4 linked regions of the Homo sapiens genome follow. The protein of the gene in region 2 interacts with the protein of the main gene of each other region in a pairwise test. Each region holds a gene or a part of one and is shown on either strand. Other genes may lie near its edges.

Region 1 (4,919 bases), on a different chromosome or scaffold from region 2:
TACATAATACATGGCAATGTGTATAATGCCCCAAGACAGGAGCCATGGACAAGCTTTGGAGGAGAGACAATAGAGAGTGCATGTGGCCCAGAACAATCAAGGAAAGTTAATGGGATAGACGGTCCTTGGGAAGGATCACGAATGATAAATGCGATCTGGACAAGTGGGAAGTAATCCAGGTGAGAAGAACCTGAGCAAATGTGTCAATCAAGGAAGAGTAGTGATCTCTTGATGTGACCCATATGACGACCTCTATGTGAGGTTTTAAAATGATTTATTTAGAAGTCATAGGATTTTGATCGGTTAAGGAACTTAGATTTTCACCAAGTAGAAAAATCCTCTTTTCAAGATCCCTACAGCACCTACCAGCTTCTATCTGAAACACTTCCACTGATGGAGAACTGGTCAGTTTTTCAAATAGCTAGTGCTTCCCACGTTACTTTGACCTTTGGCCTTGTTCTGCCTTTCAGTGTAACGTATATCACATTTGCTTACTCAAAACATGACACACACATCCCCAAATTAAAGACAGCATTGGGTGGTTCCTCCCTTGTTTTTATCTTTGTCTTTGGTTCTTCCAATTGTCTTCCTGGGTAGTCCAGATGGTGGTAAAAGATCTACCCAGGATGCCTTCTAGTTTGTTAAGGTCCCTTTGAAAACCCGTACCTGGAAGTGAAGTTATCCTGTTTTGGTTTGGAGGACTCAGGATTCAGTGGAGTGATCACTTCCTTAACCAGGATACTATGTGTTTACTAATGCAATCTATGATGGTTTTTACTGTTTTGTCTTATTAGATATCTCACACTGTTGACTGGAAGAACTCAGTAGGCCTTTAGAGTACAAAACACTTACTACTGTGGCATGAACATAGAAATAAATGAAGGTAGTGATGATGGCTGCCAATTCTGACTCTCCTTGCCTGTACTTTGCTCAGTATTTCAGCCTCCAAGTGGACAAGAAATCTCTCCATAAGTAGTTGGAAGAGCTTGTGTATATGGTTGTCAGCTGGGGATACAGTGGGTAGAATGAGGGTCCCTGCAAAAGATATATCCATGTCTTAACCCCAGAACCTGTGACTATGACCTTACAGGAAAACGATCTAAGAAGGTGTCATGAGGTTTAGGATCTTGAGATGAGATCATTCTGGATTATCTGAGTGGGTCCTAAATTCAATGACAGATGTCCTTAGACACTTATAAGACAGGAGGAGAAGACACAAACGCAGAGGAGAAGGTGATGTGAGGAGAGAGGCAGAGATTGGAATTATGCACCCACAAGCTAAGGAATGTCTAGAGCTACTAGAAACTGAAAGAGACCAGAGAAGACCCTCTCCTGGAGCCTTCAGAGGAGTGTGGCCCTGCTGTTACCTTTATTTCAAACTTCCAGCCTCCAGAACTGTGAGACAATAAATGGGAGTTGTTTTAAGCCACCAAGTTTATGGGTATTTGTTATGGCAGCCCTAGAAATACAGGGGTTACATATTTCCAGGGGTATTCCTGCAGGAATGGGGTGAATGCTCCCAACGATCCTTTCCAACACTTCTCTATAGGGCTTAGAAATAGGGAAAAATATTTGGAGACAGCAGCCACATAGATTGCTACATATTTAGCAACTCTACCCTATTAGAAAATGTATTAATTTCCCTTTAATTCATTAATAAGTTAGAATACAGATGCTTTCAGAGATGACTGTTAGACTAAATTTGCAAAGGGCCTCAAGGGAAAAAAAAAAGGCCACAGATAGAATGGCTGAGTGTGTGTATGTTGTGGAAGATGTAATATAAGTCAGACAATCATATTTAATGAGGAGTCTGAAAACACATGGTGACTCATGTATTCATGCGAGTATGCAGGAGCCTAAACATGCTGCGCTCTATTCAGAAAAGGCCACGTGACTGTCAAAAGCAGTCATAAGCAAGTTATGCAAATCATCTCAGCAGATAGCAATGACATATTTAGACCTCCCCATCATGCATGTGCTATTGTGCCAAGAAGCTATTAAAGAAAATTCTTGGAGAGTTTCGACTCTGCTGCTGGTGAAGTCTTTTGTGTGCCTGTGACAAATGCGTCAAACACAAGAAGCAAATAAGAGTCACTTGAAAAAAATCATGGAGTCTAAGTCCACATATTCTAAGTCACAAATTAGTGATGTTACCAAAAATGTCCCCGGTTAATTGGGATAGAACTTGCTCCCACTGTTAGAAGTGTACTAGTCAGCCTACCATGCCAAGGAACTTGGCTTTCTAGAGCAGAGAGAAGTTCTTTCAGATGGATAGGTGAAGAAGGGCAAAGGCAAAGAGAACAAGAGTAAACAGATGATTGTAAAAACTGCAAATCTCAAATTGGTGGATCATCTTGTCTACCTTCTACCTGAGGCAGAAATTCTTTTTAGAATATAAAATAAAAAATAATGATTATTACTATTTAATGAGCAGTTTGCAATATGCAAGATACTGTGCTGGGTATTCAACATGTTTTTTCATTTAATCTAAAATAATCCTATGAGATCATTAAGGTAATCTTCACTTTACAGATGAGTGTATGTGCAGCTGAAAAACACAAATCCTCTTTGTCATTCATTTATTAATTCATTCACTCATCCAGCAAACATACACCATGCACTAAATATGCCAAAAAAAATGATCACCTTCAGTGACAAGAAACTCAGTATCCCAAAAGGCAACCTACTACATTTTCGGACAACTCTAATTCATAGAAAGTTCTTCCTCTTACTGATCTGAAGTGTGTATCTGTGTAACTAACCAAATAGGTCACTGTGGTGTCCTCATGTCACACAGAACAAAATGGAGGAAAGGGTAAACACAGAAAGTTTACGGGAGACAACAAACGTTTTCTGTTCCTGATTTCAGCTCAGTGTAGTTTTCCACATTTTATGGTTTTTTTATGGTTTTCATGTCAACCCTATTCTTTGGGGATAGTTAATGATTAAATCATATTAACCCAGGAACAGTGACACAGTCTTCCTTCCAAACAGTTTTGAAAAGCCTTTGATACTTTGGAGGCATTGTCAGAGGACAATAAATTTGCCAACCACATAAAAGAGAGTCTATGTAATGTCAGTACATAAATATTAGGAATAGTTGTATGCTACTGGGAAGTCCATGAATACTGAGGCAATGAGGAGGACACACTTTAGAGCATCTCTTATGTGTCCTCGCCTTGCCAGCATCTTACAGACGGCATTTCGAGTAGTCAAGATCGTATCCTGGTCAAGAGAGTGAAAGGAAAAAAAAAGTAGTCAAGATCCCACCAGACCCTATTTTCTCCACTTTAAGTGAGGAATTCAAATATAGAAAGGAAGTCTTAGCCAAGGTCTTGGAGACAAGGAGACAGTGACAGGTGAAGCCAGGAAATCACCGCTCCAGGAAGACCCGCTGTTTACTCACATCACAGAAGCCCACTCCCCACAGGTTTATGAAAGACCAGGCATTTCCACTGGCAGCCACTCTACCCTGGAACTCCAAGAGAAACAACACAATCTTTGTTAACAGGTTTTCCTCCTCTGCCTTTGGGAGCCTTTTGGGAAATCTTTTTTTGCTCAGTCTTTGGCCCTCAACGTACTACCGTTTCCATCATTATTACATCCAGATAGTAGCATGACCTAAGATGTCTAACTGTAAGCAATATAAAAATGTTTAAAATAATATAACAATAGTTAACACTCACTGAACATTTAAAATATGCCAGGCACTTTCCATGTAATTATTTCAATTATTCCTCCCAACAGCTCTGAGTCTGGGAAGTATTTCATTTCCCAGCTGATGAAACCAAAGCAAAGAAATATTAAGGAACTTATTTAGGCTAGCAACTACATGGTAGAACTGGGTCTGATACACAGACCTGTCTGATACTATCAACTATGCCTTCCTTTCAATATTTACAAGTAACACTGTGGCAGGTACCATTCCAAGCACTTTACACATTTCAACCCATTTCATCTTCATGATAACCCTATTACACAGCTGATGAGAGCAGCTTAAAGAATCTGTCCCAGGTCACACAGGTAGCACATGGTAGATCTGGGTTTCAAAAACCCAGGTAGGCAGCCTGATGCCAGAGACCAGACCACTATTCTAAAGCAGTAGCATTGCCCCACCTAGAATGGAATGAATAAGATTGATATTTTCTAGTGAGGCACTACCCAGTCCCCCCAGTCAGTCTGACCTACCCACCTGGACATGCAGCCCACCTTGCTTCAGTTGTAAGGATGGAGGGGGCCTGTGAAGTACACCATTTTAGCGTCCTTTGGGGAAAAATGTAGCTAAGGAAACTGACATGCAGGGGGGTTGAGGTTCTCCCTTAGGGCTCCGTAGGCAAGCTAGTAGAACAGTAGAACCCACTGACCTCAATCCACTAATCCCTTACTCTTGAATGATGAAAATTTGTGGTATCCCTGAAGGGCGAGACCCAGAGAAGTGACCAGGGCCCTGGGCACACAACTGCTCATATGCAATGACTCAAGGTCACCCAAGGGCACAGGGTATTGCATGACAAGGCCAATCACATCCAATGGGTCATGAACCTCCTTCTATGGTACAATGAGGCTCCAAACCAGGGGCTTCCTCCTGCCAGAGGCTCGGCATGAACCCTCACTCTGGTTAGGGAGAAGGGTGTTTATCTGTGAGACTGGAGGAGACCAAACACCCAGTCTGCCCTGGAGATAGCACGACTGACAGCAAAAAGAACTCTCTGCCAAGTCAGATTACAGCAATGACAACTGGACATTTCCCCCGAAAGGCCCATGGAGAATCACATTTTGTGGGTCTGTTGCAGGATGAGAGCCTTAGAGTGGGAAAAGGAAGAAATCACAGCCAGCCAGCAACTCCTAAAAGCTTTGCCTGTGAGGCTAGCGGAGACAAATCTGCCCACCTTGTTTGATGACATTGTTTAAGAATTCTC
Region 2 (4,919 bases):
ACAAACACTTCTTAAGCACTTCCAATGTCCTAGGCTTCTCAGGGGATCCAAAAGAGAGACCTAACTCAGCCCCTGTTTTCATGGAGACTGCTCTTTATTTATGAGCCCTAAAACCGAGAGAAATATTAGATTGAACCATATGGGATTGCCATTTTTACAGGTTCAACAATTTCATGTTGTTCAACCTAATAGCTATAATATAAGAATATGAAACATAACTGCCGTATCGCACCTGAAAATATTATGAAGTTTTAAAGGTGGAGAAAACACATCTGGTTGGAAGTCACCAGGAAGAACTTCTTGGATGAATTGAGTTGAGGTAGGATTCTGTAGATGGAGGAATAGGGGAATGAGCATAGAGAATGCTTGCCAAAAAGGATGGGTTCTTGTTCTTCTAGAACCTGAAGAGAGATGTTGAAGATTGGACAAAAAATAAAATATGGGCTATATTTCACATAACCTTGACTAACTTGGCATTGAAGTTTCATTGGTGGGGAACTAGAGAAAAATGTCATGCCATAGAAGGAAATGGGAAGTCTGAAGACCCGGTTTGGTTGGGGGAAGGATGCTGCATTGTTCCAACATGATGGGAGTTGATGCCAGCTGAGTACGTGTGTTTGGAGATGCCTAGCTGGCTGTTGAGAACTTGTGTCTGAGGACACTGAAAAAGAAAGGTTCATACTTATGGAACTTCTATTAAATCACAGTTAAATGATTTAGGTGCCGAGAAGTTGGCAAACTTTGTTCATAGAAGAGTTTCACTGTAAAGACTAGGAAGTTACACATGTAATTGCAAATTGATGGCTATGTTTTCTTTAAGTGTACAACTGGCAGAATTTTAGCATCCTAGATATTCTTGTATAATCTTAGAACATATGTTTACAACTATTTAGTCAATATCATTTAGTTACCCATTATCATTACAGGTGCTATATTTCACAGTATAAGCACAAAATATCTAATAATAAGTTGCTGCTGAGAAAAAGAAGATGGACCTTCCATATGAGCTACTTAATGCTTCCATTAATGAATGTTAAATATACACCTTGGTGTCCTGAAGAGAAGAAGAGATGGCTGGGGTGGTGTCTATGCTTGCTGGGTGTCTTCCTCCTGGTTTCGTATTCTTTATCATAGGTGATATGAACATATATATTAGCTTATCATGCAAAATGAGATATTGTGAGTATAAAAGAAGACCCTGTCAATAATTATTCCAGGACAAAATTATATGTTGGGAGTGTCCTAGGAAAACTGAGGCAATGGTCACCCCACATACTGAGCAGTATCTCTCACACTTAGTTTCACCTTCTTTGAGGAGGAAATTAGTTTTAGTGCCTCACCTCAGGTACTTTGGGGAACTATAGCTTGAGACCACAGTCTTATGAAATGTCATAATTTTAAAAAGCGAGTTTGTCTATTTAACTGGCAAAGGGTATTTGTAAGATTATAATAGAATTGATGTCACATCTAAAAAATTTTCATAGAATTTTCAGTTCTGGGAGAGCATATCCACAGGCCACTTAGAGAAGCACTGTTAGAGTATAGTTATTTTCATTACACACTCATCTGTTCAGTTTTGTTATTGGCAAGACTTTAAGAACTTTAAAAAATTAAAGGAAAATGGAAAAAATATAGACATTGAAAACGAATGATCTGGCACAGATTTTGCTTCTGGGAAGCTGGAGTAGGCATACTTTTCCCTCTTCCTCCCAGCAACTACACTAAAAAGCCTAGACATTGCATATTGTACAGTTGACTCGTGGAGTCATGGAGTTAGGGGTGCCAACCGCTATGTAGACAAAACTCATGTATACTTTTATCTCCCCTCACACTTTACCAGTAGTCTGCTATTGACGGGAAGCCTTACTGATACCATGAACAGTTGATTAATACATATTTTTCATATGTAATATGTACTGTATGCTTATAATAAAAAAACTAGAGAAAACATTAACAGCATTACAAAAAGGAGAGAGGATACTTACTATTCATTAAGTAGAAGTGGATCATCAAGATTTTCATTGTCTTTGTCTTCATGTTGAGTAGGCTAAAGAGGAAGAGGAAGAGGGGGAGTTAGTCTCACTGTCTCAGGGGTGGCAGAGGCAGAAGAAAATCTGCATATAAATGGACCCATGCAGTTTCAACCCATGTTATTCAAGGGTCCGCTGTACAAGCTTAGGAAGATTCTGAAAGTAGTGAGAAGAATGTGGACAGAGTAGGGATTTTAGAACCCAAGGAAGAATCCAGAGGTGAATTTCTTGAGTTTTCTTTTTGCTACGTTACCTCAGATGTGGAACTGAAGAAGCTGGCAACCAGGAAATGTCAACATATATAGACAAAAAGAAAAGAGAAGAAAAAAGAAGCAGAGAGGAAGGGAGGGGCAGAGAGAGAGAGAGAGAGAGAGAGAAGGGAGGGGTAAAGGAAGGGGGAAGGGAAGGGAAAAGGAAGAAAGGAAGGAAGGAAGAAATCCCCAACAATGGCCTGTTTTTTATCCAGAGGACTCAGAAAGGGGCTGCCTAGCAACATAGAAAACATTTAGACAATAACCAGTCTACTCCAGCCAAATGCAACAGAAAAACTGCGGCCCTATCCTTGTCCCCACCAACACTAGTAAAGGCTGAGTGGAGAGCCTCTTGTTTGAAATTTCTGAAATAAAACACTCACTGATGGGTTTGACATAAGAATGGAAGGAACAGAGAAAAGAGTCAGTGAACTGGAAGTTGGAACATAGAAATGACACGGTCCAAATGGCAAAGAAAAGGTAGGCTGGAAAAAGAAAAAAGGAATAGAGCCTCAGAGACCTGTGGTTCTCCAACAGAGCATTTAAAGTTTGTGTCAGGGGATTCCTGGAAGGAGAAGATAATGGTGGGCAAATGCTCAAAGAAATAAGTGTTGGAAACTTCCAAAGTTTGCAAGAGACATAAAGTTATAGATGGATTTATAAAGCTGAGTGAATCTAAAACAGGAAAAACCCAAAGAAACCCACACCAACACACAACGTAATTCAACTTCTTAAAACTAAAGACAAATTTTAGATCTTGAAAGAAGCCAGAGAAATATCACACCTTCCCTATAGGGCTAACATTGTTCTAATTACAGTGGATTTCTCATCAGAAACCATGAAGGCTAGAAGGAAGTGGCACAATGTTTTTCAAATGCTGAAAGAAAAGAACTGCCAACCTGTAATATTATACCCAGTGAAAATGTCGTTCAGGAAGAAAGAACAAATCAATACTTTTTTTTTTAGATAAAGAAAAACTAAGCGAATTTGTCACCAGCAGACCTACCCTAAAAGAATGGCTAAAGAAATTTTCTAAACAAATGAAACAACAAAAAAAGGAATTTTGGAACACTAGGAAGGAGGGAAAAACATAGTAAGCAAAAATATGGTTAAATACAATGCACTGTTTTTCTCCTCTTGAGTTTTCTAAATTATGTTAGAGGGTTGCAGCAAAAGTTATAGCATTGTCTAATGTAGTTCTACATGTAGAAGAAACATTTCAGGCAAACATAAACACAGATGCAAGGAAAGGTAAGATTTCTAAACTTGACCTACAAAATAGCAACTGCAGTAGAGCATGACAAGTTAAGAATGTATAAAGAAATATCTAGAGTAATAGGTAAAGTAGGTAAATTAAAATACAAAATAAAGACAACACCAAATGCTGGTGAGGATGTGGAGAAATTGGATTACTCGCAAATTGCTACTGGGAATATAAAATGGTAGAACCACTCTGGAAAAGAATATAGCAGTTTCATAAAAAATGACATATGTATTTACCAGATGACAGAGTTATACTCTTAGTTATTTATCCTAGAGAAATGAAGACGTAGGTACACACACAAATCTGTATATGAATGTTTATAGCAGTTTTATTCACATTAGCAGAACACGGAAACAACTCTGATGTCTTTCAGTGGATCTGTGGTTCAACAAACTGGTACCTCCACACCCTAGAATATTACTCAGCAGTAAAAAAGGAGCCGACTGTTGATATACAAAATATCTTGGATGGATCTCAGGGGAAATGTGCTGTGTGGAAAAAGCCCATCCCCAAAGATCGTACACTGAATAATTTTATTTATATAACATTCTCAAAACGACAAAATGATAGAAATGGAGGGCAGATTCATGCTTCCCAGCAGTTCTGAAGGGGGTGGAAGCAGGTGAGAGGAGGGTACGACTGTGAAAGGGTAACAGAAGGGACCCTTTGGTGACGGCCGTCCTCTGTGCTGACTGTAACAATGCTTATAGTACAATTATAACGTCTAGCTTGGCAAGATGTTACCACTGGCGGAAGCTGGGGAAAAGGTAGCTGGCATCTTTCTCTGCTATCTCTTACAACTGCGTTAGAATGTGTAAGCATTTTAATATAAAGTTGAATTTAAAAAAAACCTAGGATATCTGTCCACTTTCACAGAGGAATTGAAACTATCACTTTCTTAGAAAATAAGCTTGCTATTTGTCTCTCTTTTAAAGGGAGAGTATGTATTCAATGAGTGATATTTAACATAAGAAATGAGAAAAATAATTTAATTGATTAGCAGACACATTTAAAGACTTGTTCATACTAAGAGTACAGGGTGAGTAAAACTTATAGAGACATTAATGCCTCTTTCTTGAAGCCTTTTTTTATTTATTTATTTATTTTTTTTGAGACAGAGTCTCGCTCTGTCGCCCAGGCTGGAGTGCAATGGCACAATCCCTGCTCACTGCAAGCTCCGCCTCCCGGGTTCAAGCGATTCTCCTGCCTCAGCCTCCCGAGTAGCTGGGATTACAGGCGCCCGCTACCACGCCTGGCTCATTTTTGTGTTTTTAGTAGAGACGGGGTTTCACCATGTTGGCCAGGCTGGTCTTGAACTCCTGACCTCAGGTGATCCACTCATCTTGTCCTCCCAAAGTGCTGAGATTACAGGCA
Region 3 (4,919 bases), on a different chromosome or scaffold from region 2:
CCCAAAAAAACTTCAAAAAAAAAAAAAATCAAAGGTTGTAAACTAGTCCTCAAGATTTAAAATTAAGTAAATCTTTTTTTTTTTTTTTTTGAAACGGAGTCTCACTCTGTCGCCCGGGCTGGAGTGCAGTGGCACCATCTCAGCTCACTGCAAGCTCCACCTCCCGGGTTCATGCCATTCTCCTGCCTCAGCCTCCCGAACAGCTGGGATTACAGGCGCCTGCCGCCACACCCGGCTAATTTTTTTGTATTTTTAGTAGAGACAGGGTTTCACTGTGTTAGCCAGGATGGTCTCGATCTCCTGACCTTGTGATCCGCCTGCCTCGGCCTCCCAAAGTGCTGGGATGACAGGCGTGAGCCACTGCGCCCGGCCTCAACCTTTATTATATAATTAAATAGCACAGATTTTAGGAAAGAAGAAAATTATTTTAAAGTATATACTTAGAGCATAACTACTCAAGTAACAAGATACCAATAAAGCTGTTAAAATTACAAAGCCAGGTGCTGTGGCACTCACCTGTAGTCCCCACTACTCAGGAGGCTCAGGTGGGAGGACTGCTTGAGACCAGGAGTTTGAGACCAGCCTGAGCAACAAAGCAAGACCCCATCTCTAAAAAATTTAAACTATAAGAAATATATTGTGGGCGCAGTGGCTCACACCTGTAATCCTAGCACTTTGGGAGGCCAAGGCAAGAGGATCACTTGAGGTCAGGAGTTCAAAACCAGCCTGGAGTTCAAAACCAGCCTGGCCAACATGGTAAAACCCTGTCTCTACTAAAAATACAAAAAATTAGCAGGGCGTGATGGTGCACGCCTGTAATCCCAACTACTTGGGAGGCTGAGGGAGTAGAATCGCTTGAACCAGGGAGGTGGGAGGTTGCAGTGAGCCAAGACCGCACCACTGCAATCCAGCCTGGGCAACACAGTGAGACTGTCTCAAAACAAACAAACAAACAAACAAAAATAACACACACACACACACACACACACACACACACATATATACATACACATATACACACACACACACAAATACACATACATACACATATACATACACATATATACATATATATAGCCCGAGCAACAGAGTGAGACCCTGTTTCTAAATTAATTAATTAGGCCGAGGATAGTGGCTCATGCCTATAATCCCAGCACTTTCGGAGGCCAAGGCGGGCAGATCACTTGAGCGCAGGGGTTCGAGACCAGCCTGGCCAATATAGTGAAACCTCATCTCTACTAAAAATACAAAAAAACAAAAAACAAAAATTAGCCGAGCATGGTGGTGCATGCCTGTAGTCCAGCTACTTGTTGTGCCTGTAGTCCCAGCTACTCAGGAGGACGAGGCAGGAGAATCGCTTAAATCCAGGAGGTGGAGGTTACAGTAAACCAAGATCCCACCACTGCACTCCAGCCTGGGCAACAGAGACTCGGTCTCAAAAATAAATAATTAATTTAAAATTGTTTTAAAATTAAGGATTAAAAAAAGTAAATATGAACTAAAAACTCAGGAACTGGATGTTCAAGCTGGTCAAATAGGAAATTACACAAATTTGTGCTTAACAAGAAGTAGAAGTTCATTTTAAAAGATGCCTCCTTACAGAGAGGCCTAAAAGCAAAAACAGATTAGATTTCCATTTTTAAGAGTTCAGCAAAGAATCAAACTTGTTATATGTAATTTTTATTGCAATAGTAGCTTACTTCTGCCATGTACAAGAATTATTTCCTTGACTGTTCAAAACAAGGAAGAACAGAGGTTTCCAAGAGCCTTTGAAGATTACAGAATAAAACACCAAAAGAGATAAACACCTTACTCCTACGCCAGTCTGTACTTTCTTCTGAAGCCTTGCTTTGACTACCTGCTCAACTTTCATATTAATTTGTCTTAACATGTTTTTCAAAATATTACATCTGCCAGGTGTGGAGGCTCTTGCCTGTAATCCCAGCACTTTGGGAGGCTGAGGCAGGAGGACGGTTTGCACCCAGGAGTTAGAGACTAGGTTGGGCAACAAAGCAAGACCCATCTCTACAAAAAAATTTTTTTTAATAGCCAGGCATGGTGGTGAGTGCCTGTAGTCCCAGCTAGCTACTTGGGAGGTTGAGGTGGGAAGATTTCTTGAGCCTGGGAGGTCGAGGCTGCAGTAAGCTATGATCATGCCACTGCACTCCTCGCAACAGAGCGAGACCCTATTTCAAAAAAAACAAAAACAAAAACAAAATTACATCTGACCACTCTAAGGCCTCTGAAAATGCTGACTGCTTCCTTAACAATCATTTGCAGATGATCTGAATCCTCAGTTTCCACTCTCACTTTATTCCTGGTTTTCTTCCTATCCTTCTGTTCGTTCCTTGTCTGGCTGCAATTTTCTCCACTCGATATTTAAGTAAGTATTCTCCAACACTTGGCTCTATCTAGGTGCTCTTCAATCTTTCCATTTATATACCTCACTCGGTGACCACTTCGACACCCACAGCTTTAGCTCCATGTATTCCAGATCTACATATGGTATACACACTTAACTACTGAACCCAGTCATCAAATCTTACACTGTCCTTAAAATGTCAGGAGTCTCTCTGCTCCATTCCTACTATCATTTCCTTAGTTCAGGTTCTAATCATTTCTCTCCCTGACACATCAATGAATGACCGACCTCTTCACTAGTCTCACCACTACCAAGCTGAAAACCCTGCTATGAAGGTAAACTTTCTAAAAATGAAATGTGACCACGCTGCTCCCCTGCCAAAAATTATTTACTAGGTCTAGTATTATTCATTAGGTTATCTAATTATTTAATAGGTTTTCAGGAAAACACTCAAATTAGCTTACACAGTAAGTTCCTGCCAATAACGCTAAGCTCCATCTCCACTACGCTGTCTTTGGCTCCAGCCAAACTTCAAAGTCCAGCTCACATTCATCCTCTGTACCCTCCTTGACTCTGGCATTCCCCACAAACACTGAATACAAACGCTGACCTAAGGCATTACTTCATCTAGGAAATTATCCCTATCCTTTAGGCTAATTTAGATACCTGCTCTAGATGCTCACATAAAATCTCTTCTATATCAATCACACTCATTTATAGGTCTCTCCAGCGGACTATTAAGTCTCCAGAGAAACAGTACTTAGTAGTCCCTGCACCAGACAAAGAGCATTCAACAACTGCAGTTTCAGGGAATGAATGGGGATTAAACGGGAGTTTATATTTTAGTAATGTTATTCTAATGATAATGAACTTGCTCCTTTTACTAGGATAGTCAGTAGTCAAATCCTTTCCTGTCATTGAAATGGCAATTAAAATTTTTCATTTTCTAACTGATCCACAGTAACCCAAAGCCCTTATCACTTCAACTCTCTATTCGTGAATCAAAAATTGATTTTGCAGCCAAATATAAATTTCTTTAAAGGCATAGGTCTGTCCTTTGTGAAGAAGGTAGAGCAAATGACATAGATAACTATGTTAATTAAAAAACAGGTCAGGTGCCATGCCTCACGCCTGTCATCCCAGCACTTTTGGAGGCCAAGACAGGAGGATGACTTCAGCCCAGGAGTTCAAGATCTGACTGGGCAACGTAGTGAGGCCCTGTCTCTATAAAAAAGAAAACAAAATTAGTCAGGCATGGAGGCATGCTCCTGTAGTCCCAGCAACTTGAGAGGCTGAGGCGGGAGGGTTGCTCCAACGGGGGAGGTCAAGGCTGCAATGAAACATGATCACACCACTGCACTCCACCCTGGACAACAGAATAAGACCATGTCTCAAAAAAAAACGATAATTTTTAAAATTTCTCTCCAATTCCCCCACTAAACTCCTTCCAACTGATTAAAATCCTGTTCCTCCATTACCACCTCTTCCAAATTAAACTTTTTTTCTCCCTCTGCCTATTCTTTTAATTCATTGTTCAGGCAGAACTGTCTACGTACAATAAGTTGATTTGAGAAAGGTCCTGAATTAAAAACAATCATCTCCAACATTTTCCACAGTCTTGAGGTCAAATCAAATTATAAACCTTGATTTAAAATGTCCCACAAGGGAAGCGGACTAGAGCAATCTACACGGAATTTTGGGGAGTGCTAAAAACTACAATGAGGCCCATTAGGTCAATGACCCAAAGGATAATTAGAATGATTCTATCCAAAAAAGACCTGCTTTATATATATATATATAGTTAGCAGCTATTACAACTTCCTCTCACCTTGCTCTCCTCCCTCCCTTTTATCTACCCAATGCCAACACAGCACTTAAATTTTTTTTAAATATTGGAAAGGGACCAAGTTATGCTAGATTAAAGGTGGAAGATCTATATTGTGCCCTAGACACCTCCAAACGTTTTTTTTTTCATGTCAGATGGGTAATGTGCTGACCCTGTAACAAGGTTTGAGGATGGCATATCTCACACATGCCTGTGAACACTCAATCATCACACTATGAACCGCAAAAGGATCCCTCAAAACATTTCCCTAAGAATCTGCATTTGTTGCACAAAATAACAAGATGTCATTCATCTCCCTTAAAGAGCAAAAGCGTAACTGGCATAATTTCTATCATGAAAATCCACACACTCTTGGCTCACACAACCAGCACAAAATAGAAATAAAGTAGACAGTGCAGTTAAGATTGGGGAAAAAATGAGAAGAGTTGGTATCAAGAAAACAGCCACAGTAAGGGCATTTGCAATTAAGAACCAAAAATTCAATCCATCCTTTACAAAATTATAGAACCTCACCTCAAAAAAAAAAGAAAAAAAAGTCGAAGGAGAATGAAATACATTTAGAAGGTTGGTCAATTCTTTTCAGTTGTTTGCAAACACACGTAACTTTCAAGCCTGAGTGTGTTTTTTAAAAATAAAGATTTCCGGGCGGGGCGCGGTGGCTCACGCCTTTAATCCCAGCACTTTGGGAGGCCGAGGCGGGAGGATCACGAG
Region 4 (4,964 bases), on a different chromosome or scaffold from region 2:
CGGGTGGGATTCTAGCCATGTAACACCCTCCCTCTCTGAGTCTCTGGGCCCCCTCATCCTGAGCCTCCAAAGTCTGGAAGGTTTCATAGCTCATGTGTCCACCAGATGACAGTGGAAGGGCTCAGAAAGATGCTTCCAGAAAGTCCTTCTCCACAAACACTACACAAAGTTAAGACCCTGTTCCCACCCTTGGCTCAGACCCTAAAAGAGAGAGTCACTCTCATTTGTCTTTACCCCACTCAACCCCACCCTGGCTTTGGGATTTCTCTACATTCTGTATTTTGTCCCCAGCCTGTTAACTATAGCTTCACTGCTGAGCCATCTGTTCTAGACCACGTTGCTGCCTCTGCCCACCACACACTTCCCTGGAGCTGGACCTGATCAGCCAGAAGAAGCATCTGAAAAGGAGCATCTCAATTTCAGCACAGTCGACCTTAACAAAATAACTTCAGGAAGTGCACCAGCTTGGGAACCAGGACTTCGGGGTTCCCCTGCTTCTGTCATCAGCAGCTGCACAGGCTTATCTGAGACTTTCTCTCTCTGGGTGTGCACCTATAAAATGCCAGGATTGGATGCAGTGACTACTGCTGTGGTTCTGAGATGGGGAGCTGGGGAGCTGGGGAGCAGGGCTGGGAGGAGAATCAGTTGGGTGAACTCCTGGCTGGCTGAGCCCTGCAGAAGTGGTCCTGGGCTTCTCCTTCCTTCAAGGCTTGACCAAGTTCTCTCTGCTTATGTATCCATTCTGTCCTCTTGCTGGGACAGGTGCTTGTTGACTGCCTGTTGACAGGATCATGGGAAGCAGTTTCTCAGAGAGGAGACAAGAGGAGCGGAACCCCAAGTCCTAGTGGAAGAGCCTGCAAAGGTGCCCATATCCACTTGGCCTTGGCCTGAGGCCTCTTGCAGCCACTGAATGGGGACCTCTGACGTTCACTTCCTTGGATCTCTTGAATTCCAATCTCCCTCTTCCCATCTGTGCATTCCAGCAATGGATCTCATTGGTTCACCTGCTCCCACCATGAAGTCATCTGAGGGTTAAATTCTGTTTCAATAATATACTGGGAAGCTGACATTCACATACACACATTTTATTTTTCATAAAATAAAGGATAATGTGCCCACCCATACCCTGTAAGTTTCATAGCCTAGAAGTCAGTTTCATAGCCTAGAAGTCTTCCTAGTAGTCAGATTTTCTGTCCCCCAGAGGGAGAACTCCCGCACCCCCAGTTCCCAGGGGGCCTGGTGTTTGAGGAGCTGCATCAAGCTGCATCTTCTTACAAGCCCAGGGGAGAAAGGATGTGTTTAAGGGTAGAAGTTGTTCATTTTGTTTTCCTTTGCAAGATTTTGATAGAATCTAGTATAAAGGCTGTCTGGCTTAGCTCAGAATGCAAGAAAAGGTGTTATTCTTTCGCATTTGGGCACTTCACAGAGGGCATGGGCACTCCCCCATCTAAACAGGCTTGAAAAAGGACACAGACCCAAGAGAGGCCCTTGCGGAGGCCCAGCAAAGAGTGGTTCAGGATGCACAGACAGGCTCTCTGGGGCTGTGGGCCAGGAGTGGGAAAGCCACCTTAGTCCTGCTGGAGCAGATTTGGGAAGGGTCATGGGAACAAGTTTCTCTGCTCTGGGGTCTGGGCCACAGTCTACCATGTCCCATCTCTCTGGTTCTGCCCAGTGTTCCTTCCTTCCTGTCATCCCCAGCACCTCATCAGTGCTCCCCGCTCCTGAACACCATGGTCAATCATCCTGGGGCTTCTCACATCTGTGAAAGAACAGGTCTCTCGACCACCTAGGGGTAGACTTCCAGGATGGTGCCTGCTTAACTTTCCTACAATCCAGGGTCATCGGGGAAATGAGCCAGGTGGGGAGGGTGGAGTCTCACTTGCAGCCAGAAACCCTGGGATGTAGCCTATCTGTGACAAGGGCAGATCGGCAACCATCTGCAACCAGAAACAGGCCGGGTGTTCTATCCACTGCCCCCAGATGCTGCCTCCCAGGTTCCAAGAGCCACCTTGAGTCCCAGCTCAGCTGCCACCCAGACACCGAGCATTCGACCAGGGCAGTGCAGTACATGGCGGTGCCTTGGAATCCCTGGCATCACCCTCCCCCGACCTGCCCCTCTTCTTCATCCCCACCTGACATCTCTCCTGTCCTTCAATACCTCCTGGGGCTGTTACTCTTCCTGGAGAAGGGGCTCTCGGTCCCCTTCCAGAAGCCTCTCATCCTCCTCCTTCTCCATGCAGCCCACTGTGGCAGCCAACCCAGCACCCACGCCACCCCCAACCACAGCGGCCCCTGTGGCCCCCACGGCAGCTCCAGCAGCCACCATCCCAGCCTCTGCAGCCAGTGCAGCTGCTGCCATGCCAGCACCCACCACGCCCCCTGCCAGGCCCATGAGCCCGGCCCCCACAGCACCCCCCACAGCAGCTAGGTGGCCACAGAAGCGCATCGTGTAGGAGTCCATGAAGGCCTTGGCCGTGGCCTGCAGCTCAGCTTCCAGTGCCTCCAAGGTCTGATCTCTCCCCTTGCAGAGTAAGGCCACACCATGGCGGGCCAGAATGGCATCTTTCTGGGTGGAGAGGAGGTTCCGCATGGTGTCTGGCAGGACCCGCAGCGCAGAGAATATGCGCTTGGTGGCTACGTCCTGTGACAGGGAGGGGAAAAGAAGGTGCCCTGACCAGGAGTCCCAGGTATCCTCTCCCTGATCTGGACCCTGCCCGGCCCACACCTGCCTCCCGTGCAGCCCCGGGGCTCACCTGCTGCCTCACATACTCCTCGAACTCCCTCTTGGCAGCTTCCACCTTCCTCAGGTCGTGCAGCTGAGCAGCCATCTGTCCACGGGAAAACCCAGGCTGCCTCCTTCCTTCCTTCTCAGCCAGGGGCGCTGCTTGTTTCCTCATCTCCACTCCCAGGGCACACAGACCCCCACCCCGGAGGCCTCGGCACAGCCCCCACCTCCCTGCCTCCCCTGTCTCCCTGCCAGAATGCTGGATCCCCCAGCGCTCATACCTCATCCGGAGAGGTGAAACCGGGCCCTGTCCTCCCCATCCATCCTGAGAGGTTCTGCGGAGATACCATCGCTGGGGTCAGGGAGAGCAGGGGCCCAGCCGAGTCGCCTGGGTCTCCAGGGAGTTTTCACACCTTGATTTCCTGAGCTAGCTGCTGCCCCGTGAGTAGGCGTCTGTCCCCCCTGGCCACGGCGCGCCCCTCGTTCCAGTACCCCTGGCAGCGGCTCTTAGCGTGCTGGGGGGCCGCACTCAGCACATCTGAGACGTAGGCCCCCAGAAGGTGGCGGAAGTCATCATCTGTGTCTGAGGGAGAGATGTGCATGCTGAGAGACTGCGGGCTTTGGGAGGAGAAGGGGTGTCAGAGGCCAGGAGAGGTGGGTGCTTCAAGGGGCTCGGTTGCCGGAGGGGAGCTGGGAGCAGCGCAAGAGAGGTTCAGCTCTCAGAGACACTCACCACCAGGGCTTGCATGGCCTTGGTTCATCCGCCGCCTCCCTGGGGCAGGCAAGAGGCAGCAACGGGCTCGCTTCCCTTGCAGCAGCTCCTGCACCTTGGGGTATCTGCCAGACAATCTCTGTGAGGCAGCGAGAGGAGTGCTCTGAGCTAGGAGGTCCAGCCTCCCATGTCTTCCCCACCTCTGCCCTGTCCATGGCCCCTCCACCCCATCCCCTTGCACCACTCACCTGGAAGATGTTGCCTACATGCCCCTGCCCTGCCTTGTTGGGGTGGGATGAGTCACGAACTAAGAGGTCCAGATGCTGAAAGAGAAGGGGTCCTGACACCAGCAAATGGGGGTGGCGGGGCCTGGGGCCAATGAATCCAGAGATAGGTGTCTCACCTGGATTGGCACCATCCCATAATGCTTGCCCATCACCTCGGCCACGTGGACAAACATCTGGGGGTGGGACACAGAAAGCGTCAGGGCTGGGCCACTTTGAGGACTATGGTGCACCCCAAGCCTGTCTCCCCACCTCCCTACGCCTGCTGTAGGAGCTAGGCTCCCCCTTTTGCAGCCTGGGGTTCTCCTGCCTCTCCCCAGACCACACATCTCTTGCTTTACTCTCCACCCTCCCCCTTCAACCCTGTTCAAGTGTCATAAAACCCTAGGCCAGACCAGGAGGGCACCTAGTTCCTTTGGGTCCAGCCCTAGTGGGGAGGGTGGGGGTGGGGGATGCCCCAACATCAGAGGTCTCTTTACCTCCAGATAGTCCAGGTCTGTATCCTTCAGCTCCTGGGAGGTGCTGAGGATCTGGAATCAGAGAGAACAACATGTATGAGAGATTACAGAGGCCGGGTGACTTCACTGGGGAAGGCCCTGGTGAGTAGGGAGCTCGCAGGCAGCCTGTGGGCCTCAGAGTATGGGAGAGGCCAGTATGGGGGCCTCGAAGGCTGCAGGGCTGGGCTGGCCTCAAGGCCGGAGACAAGCCTGGAGGGTAATGTGATCCATCAGGTCTTCAGCTGCCCCTGGGACCATCAGCCCACTTTTAGGAATAACCCACGTTCCCACCTTCACCAACTAGGAGCACCTTCCCCCTTCTAAGGCAGCCCCAGAACCTATCAGGACCCCAGACACCAAAGCCTGTGAGATGCTCTGGCCTTGAGGAAGCTGAGCTGGAGAAGGGTGTGTGGGGTGGGGATGCCAACATCAGCGCCCCCCATCACCTGGTAGGAGCTCAGCATCGTGGTGAGAGCACAGAGCTTGATCCTTGTTTCCCTGCTCAGCTCAGGGCTCATGGCATCCCCTGTGTCCACCAGGAACACCGCCACCTATGCAGGGGGTAGGGAAAGACCCAAGGGGCCAGGCCTGCCTTGTTCTCCCACATTCTTCCCAACCCTGCCCCGTCCCATCCCCATCTTCTATCCTCACCCCAGAGACGCCCTTCTTGATTCCCCTTCCCATCCCTGACCTCCTTCTGCCACTTCCCCCCTCACCTTCTTCCCTTCTTTCCCCAGCAAGAAGGG

What was found. Proteins that work in one complex are often made in the same cells at the same time.
Region 1: the proteins of PRKN (region 2) and LNX1 interact in binary tests that used the Homo sapiens proteins (3 or more experiments, as listed by UniProt).
Region 3: the proteins of PRKN (region 2) and RNF138 interact in binary tests that used the Homo sapiens proteins (3 or more experiments, as listed by UniProt).
Region 4: the proteins of PRKN (region 2) and RNF112 interact in binary tests that used the Homo sapiens proteins (3 or more experiments, as listed by UniProt).

What each region holds. Positions count from the first base shown.
Region 1 is NC_000004.12:53,584,418-53,589,336, forward strand, and holds part of LNX1 (E3 ubiquitin-protein ligase LNX), read right to left. Parts: intron 1-4,919.
Region 2 is NC_000006.12:162,436,829-162,441,747, reverse strand, and holds part of PRKN (E3 ubiquitin-protein ligase parkin), read left to right. Parts: intron 1-4,919. UniProt on the Homo sapiens protein: Functions within a multiprotein E3 ubiquitin ligase complex, catalyzing the covalent attachment of ubiquitin moieties onto substrate proteins. Substrates include SYT11 and VDAC1.
Region 3 is NC_000018.10:32,094,024-32,098,942, reverse strand, and holds part of RNF138 (E3 ubiquitin-protein ligase RNF138), read right to left. Parts: intron 4,440-4,919; exon of another isoform or gene 4,337-4,439; intron 1-4,336. UniProt on the Homo sapiens protein: E3 ubiquitin-protein ligase involved in DNA damage response by promoting DNA resection and homologous recombination.
Region 4 is NC_000017.11:19,413,382-19,418,345, reverse strand, and holds the end of RNF112 (RING finger protein 112), read right to left. Parts: coding exon 4,935-4,964; intron 4,770-4,934; coding exon 4,665-4,769; intron 4,252-4,664; coding exon 4,201-4,251; intron 3,898-4,200; coding exon 3,841-3,897; intron 3,761-3,840; coding exon 3,686-3,760; intron 3,601-3,685; coding exon of another isoform or gene 3,577-3,600; coding exon 3,459-3,576; intron 3,309-3,458; coding exon 3,139-3,308; intron 3,061-3,138; coding exon 3,007-3,060; intron 2,829-3,006; coding exon 2,754-2,828; intron 2,642-2,753; coding exon 2,171-2,641; 3' UTR 1,070-2,170; downstream 1-1,069. UniProt on the Homo sapiens protein: E3 ubiquitin-protein ligase that plays an important role in neuronal differentiation, including neurogenesis and gliogenesis, during brain development.